2 separate regions of the Homo sapiens genome follow, and region 1 is linked to region 2. Evidence: fine-mapped expression QTL. A gene starts in region 2. The other region holds a variant in brackets. All regions are shown on one strand. Distances are between the middles of the regions.

Region 1 (2,907 bases), 30 kb after region 2:
AAACTTATCATGAGTGAGCCCATCCCAAGAGAGAGAGGCAGACCCCCTGGGAGGCTCCACCCTCAGTCACCCATCAATGCACTTTGATGCTGCTGGGGCTGGTCGGCTGCAAACCCCCTTTCCCCCACAGACACAGGCCGAGGCAGAAGCGAGCACAGAGCTCACCGTGCTCCCATTTTGTGGTTCTGTAAGTTCCTTAGATTGTGTTTTGGAGGCCAGGCACGGTGGCTCACGCCTGTGTTTTGTTTTTGAGACAGAGTCTCACTCTGTCGCCCAGGCTGAAGTGCATTGGCGCAATCTCGGCTCACTGCAACCTCCACCCGCCAGGTTCAAGCGATTCTCCTGCCTCAGCCTCCCAAGTAGCTGGGATTACAGGCACCCACCAATACACCTGGCTAATTTTGTGTATTTTTAGTAGAGATGAGGTTTTATCATGTTGGCCAGGCTGGTTTCAAACACCTGACCTCAAGTGATACACCCGCCTTGGCCTCCCAAAGTGCTAGGATTACAGGCGTGAGCCACTGTGCCTGGCCTAACAAAGTGATTTTATGTGCTTATTGTGGGAAGGACTCTTTCTGTGTATTTTTAAAAATTGAGATGTAATTCATCTGTGTATGTTTAAGGAGAATAGAAGATTTGCTCATAATGGTAGAATTTTAAAACTAGATATGACTCTGAGGTTGCTCCAGACCAACACTGAGATTTTGAGTGAAGAGGGGCAGTGAGCAGCTCTGTGGCTTGGTCCAGCACTTGCCTAGCCCCTGACTGGACTAAAGCCAAATCCATTTTCCATTTTCCAGTTTACACCTTGGTGCCTCCAACTATGAGTACTTTTTTTTTTGAGACTGATTCTCACTCCGTCGCCCAGTCTGGAGTACAGTGGCACGTTCTCAGCTCACTGCAACCTCCGCCTCCCAGGTTCGAGCAATTCTCCTGCCTCAGCCTCCCGAGTAGCTGGGATTACAGGCACCCGCCACCACACCCAGCTAATTTTTGTATTTTCAGTAGAGATGGGTTACACCACGTTGGCCAGGCTGGTCTCTAACTCCTGACCTCAAGTGATCCGCCCGCCTCGGCCTCCCAAAGCGCTAGGAGTACAGGTGTGAGCCACCACGCCCAGCCCAAGTACTTCTGGTGTCGGGAAACCACCAGGAGTCAGCAGTGTCAAGCTCCCCAAGGCATTCATCACGCGCTCAGTGCTTTCCTGGCTTTTGCCACAGCGGGAGGTGACATGAGGCTCCTCCACAGCTATGGGAGGCACTCGGGCCACCCTGAATTCGGGATCAGTGCTCCAGTTCTGCTGGCGCCTTCCAGCCTTGCCCAGCCATCCCAGGAGCACGCTGTGCTGCTTTCAGTGAAAACGTGTGGAACGGGTACCCCATTTGTAGCAGCTGCTGATGGAAATCTGTTAGTGACAAAGTACTTAGACACAGGAGAAGCCACCCACATCCGAACCCCTGGGGAGCTCGTTAAAAGGCAGACTCCCAGCACTACCTGGACGTGGGAATGGCAGCCATGACTCTGGGGGCCAGAGCCAGAGGCCTCAGCGAGCGATGCTTATGGCTGAGCCCCACATGTCAGGAGAAGCAAGCTCCTGGGAGGC[T/C]GCACCTGGCACTGTGCCATGGAGAGGGGCACCCCGAGGCCTGCAGGTAGAGAGTGCTGACTCCAAGGTGAGTGTTTAGGGTGACTTAGGAAGGAAGGAGTGTTCCAATAAAAGCTGGCCCTGTGGTGGGCCTAGATTAAGCAGGGACTGCCAGAGATCAGGACTGATGCTACAGCTCAGGGTCTTCTTATTTAAAGACCTTGCTCACCCAGGAGCGGTGGCTCACACCTGTCATCCCAGCGCTTTGGGAGGCAGAGGCGGGTGGATCACCTGAGATCAGGAGTTTGAGACCAGCCTGGCTAACATGGTGAAACCCCGTCTCTACTTAAAATACAAAAATTGGCTTGGCCTGGTGGCACATGCCTGTAATCCCAGCTACTCAGGAGGCTGGGGCAGGAGAATCACTAGAACCCAGAGGTGGAGGTTGCAGTGAGCTGAGATCATGCCATTGTACTCCAGCCTGGGCAATAGAGTAAGATTCTGTCTTAAAATAAAACAAAACAAGACAAAACAAAAACTTTGCTCATTGTGTGTTATTTTATAATGTTATTTGGTGATAGGATTTAAGCTGCTTTTAAAAAATATTTGGAAGACACCTTTTTTTTTAATTAAAGTCTGGAAATCTTATAGGACAGGCAGGCATCACAGAAACGTTCTTTACGGATTTCTGCCTGCAGGGAGTTGAGGCCCTCACCACCACCCAGTGGCAGCACTGGGACCCTGCCTTCATTCCACATTTACTGTGAACCTCTGGGCAGGCGCTGGGCTGGGGGGGGGCAGAGTGAATGGGACAGACAGAGCCCACCTTTCACGGAGCCCACCTTTGGCTTGTCACTTCAACCATACAGCAACCCCTTGCGAGTGAACTCATATAACCCTAATGTAGACAATGCCTCAGGTAACACCACAGCTCAACAAACAGACAAAATGACACACACGTCTCACTGCCTTTATTTCCAGGAATTAGTGGTGGGCCCTTGGAAAACCACTACAGACTGAAGCAATTTCACTTCCACTGGGGAGCAGTGAACGAGGGGGGCTCAGAGCACACAGTGGACGGCCACGCGTACCCCGCAGAGGTTTGTAGACGTGGCCTAACAGCACATATCTGCACACTTTCCATGTCTCCGGCTCTATGGTGGGGGGTGAACAAGCCATGCGCGCCGCTCAGATGTGAAGGATTTCCTGGGGCCTGGGACTGTCAGTGCTCAAACCAGAACCGTCGGCCGCCCCACCCGTTTAGTCACACCTCTCCTACGAGGAAGGCGCTGTAAGTTCTCTCTCATTTAACGGAAGAAGAGACT
Region 2 (2,907 bases):
TGAGACTGCAGTGAGCCATGATGGCACCACCGCACTCCACCTTGGGTGACAGAGCAAGACCTCACCTCAAAAAAAAAAAAAAAAAGAAAGAAAGAAAGAAAGAAAGAAAGAAAGAAAAGAAAAGAGGCTGGACGCAGTGGCTCATGCCTGTAATCCTAGCACTTTAGGAGGCCGAGGTGGGTGGATTGCCTGAGCTCAGGAGTTCGAGACCAGCTTGGGGAACACAGTGAAACCCCGTCTCTACTAAAAATACAAAAAATTGGCCGTTGTGGTGGTGTGTGCCTATAATCCCAGCTACTCAGGAGGCTGAGACAGGAGAATTGCTTAAACCTGGGAGGCAAAGGTTGCAGTGAGGCAGGATCACGCCATTGCACTCCAGCCTGGGCAACAGAGCGAGACTCCATCTCAAAAAAAGAAAGAAAGAAAAGAAAAGAAACGAAGAAAAGAGGCTGGGCGTAGTGGCTCACACTTGTAATCCCAGCACTTTGGGAGGCCGAGGCAGGCAGATCACCTGAGGTCAGGAGTTCAACACCAGCCTGGCCAACGTGGTGAAACCCCATCTCTACTAAAAATACAAAAAATTAGCTGGGCATGGTGGTGGGCGCCTGTAATCCCAGCTACTCAGGAGGCTGAGGCAGGAGAATTGCTTGAACCTGGGAGGCAGAGGTAGCAGTGAGCCGAGATCACGCCATTGCACTCTAGCCTGGGCAACAGAAGTGAAACTCTGTCTAAAAAAAAAAAGAAAAGGAAAGAAAGAAAGGTGGCCCTGTTAATGTTTATGCCAAGACAGCAGGCATGACCTGGAAGTGTCCGAAGCCACAGGGCATCTTGCTTCCGGGGAGGATGAATGAATCAAATCGCACCTATTTTAAGGCAAGCAAGGACTCCATGACTTCAGGAGCCCTGGTGGGTGGACAGAAGCTCCCTGCTCCCCTGGCCTGTCTACCCAGCAGCGCTTTGGCCAGTCCCATTCCTGTACTTCTGAGCCTGCCTGCCAGTCCCTCCTCACATGCACACCATGGCTTTGTGCCTGGTATTGAGTGTCCCGGAGCCCCAAACCACACGGTCAACCCCATGAAAGAAACAGGGACTCTGCTCTCATCCACTCGCCCCCGCCTCCCGCGTAATCCCCTGGTGCTCACGCAGCCCCACCGTACAGTTTTTCTAGCTCCCTGGCAGACTTGTGCTCCTGTTTGCCAGATCAAAGCCCAGTGACCTGAGTGGCCTGTCCCCAGCAGAGGCCACTAATCCCTGTGGACCCACCCTGTTGGGAAAGGCATGGGTTGAACTTTAACCATTAGGCTCAGGGGTTGGGATGAGTTTCTACAAAAAGAGGTGGGTACACGCCAGTCCACAGTGGTCCTGATCAAAGTGAGAACAGACAGCAGGGAACATCACCCTCTTCAGACTGGAGTCAGTGGGAACAGACCCAAGATGTTGGGGAGGAACACTTGGAAGACCTCAGCTTTCTCCTTCTTGGTTGAGCAGATGTGGGCCCCTCTCTGGAGTCGTTCGATGAGGCCAGGGCGATGGTGTTCTCAGCGTTCCTGTGCATGGCAAACCAGCAATAACACTTGTAAGTAGAGCCTCAAATTTCCTAAGATGCGACTGGATCCTTGTCTTAGCTGATGGGGTCTTTCGAGAGGAGAGAGGAGAGACCGTCCCGAGCCAGATGGGTTCAGATTTCCACTCCGTTTTTTTTTTTTTTTTTTTAAGATGGCGTCTCGCTCTGTGGCCCAGGCTGGAGTACAGTGGCGTGATCTCAGCTCACCACAACCTCCACTTCCCGGGTTCAAGCGATTCTCCTGCCTCAGCTTCCTGAGTAGCTGGGACTATAGGTGCATGCCACCACTCCTGGCTAATTTTTCGTATTTTTAGTAGAGACAGGGTTTCACTGTGTTAGCCAGGTTGGTCTCGAACTCCTAACCTCGCGATCCGCCTGTCTCAGCCTCCCAAAGTGCTGGGATTGCAGGCATCAGCCACGGCGCCCGGCCCTCTTTTTTCTTTTTTTGATGAAGTTTTGCTCTTTTGCCCAGGCTAGAGTGCAATGGCATGATCTCGGCTCACTGCAACCTCTGCCCTCCAGGTTCAAGTGATTCTCCTGCCTCAGCCTCCAAAGTAACTGGGACTACAGGCACCCGCCACTGCACCCAGCTAATTTTTTGTATTTTGGTAGAGATGGGGTTTCACCATGTTGGCCAGGCTGGTCTCGAACTCCTGACCTCAGGTGATCCACCCACCTTGGCCTCCCAAAGTGCTAGGATTACAGGCGTGAGCCACCGCGCCTGGCCACACTCCGTTTCTCTTGTATTTGGTGACCTTGGGTGAATCATTTAGCCTCCGTTTCAGGGGTCCTGGGGAGGGCAAGATGCTGGGAGCAGGCGGGTAGTCCGTGTTCGCACGGGACACACTGGCACGACTCACCATCCAGACCCGGCGGAATGGGCTGCACTAACCAGTCACGATCGCTCCTAAACTCTTCGGCAGAGAACGCTTTCAAGCAAACCTGTAACAAATAAACCACTCAGCCAGCTCTGCCAAGAAACTGCCCCGTGCCAGCCCCTCCTGGCTTCATGGTCAGTGCCTTGTGACCTTGAACGAGGCCCTTCCTCTTTCTGGGTCTCAGGTGCTTCCTCCGTAGAATGAGAGCCTGCTTTGGCAGCTGCCAAGTTCTCTTCTAACTGAAATCTTCCATGCATTCCATGTTTGGGCCATTGAAAGAGCATGGGCTTAGGAGCCAGACCCCAGGCATGCAGTCCGACTGACGCTTGCTGAGGTGGAGCCTCGGCAGGTCTTCACCCCCAAGCCTCTGTGTCCTTATCTCGAGATGGGGGTGGCCAGACTTTCTCTCCAGGGCCATGGAAGGATGACACGATGCGTGTAGAAAGCCTGGCCCACCCCAGACTC

The links. PIP is the estimated chance that this variant, and not a neighbour inherited with it, causes the effect. A credible set is the group of variants that fine-mapping cannot tell apart.
Region 1: its variant is the best candidate, but not a certain one, in a credible set for the expression of CA5A in anterior cingulate cortex (GTEx, PIP 0.61).

The regions. Positions count from the first base shown.
Region 1 is chr16:87,904,561-87,907,467 of GRCh38, reverse strand. CA5A (carbonic anhydrase 5A) reads left to right here. Exons shown (of 7, transcript NM_001739.2): 3 at 2,564-2,682. Among named protein-coding and RNA genes, the nearest start is that of CA5A, 31 kb to the left of the region's middle. The variant T/C (reference allele first, on the strand shown) is at 1,604.
Region 2 is chr16:87,934,978-87,937,884 of GRCh38, reverse strand. It overlaps CA5A (carbonic anhydrase 5A), which reads left to right and starts at 1,356. Exons shown (of 7, transcript NM_001739.2): 1 at 1,356-1,576. The coding sequence starts at 1,435.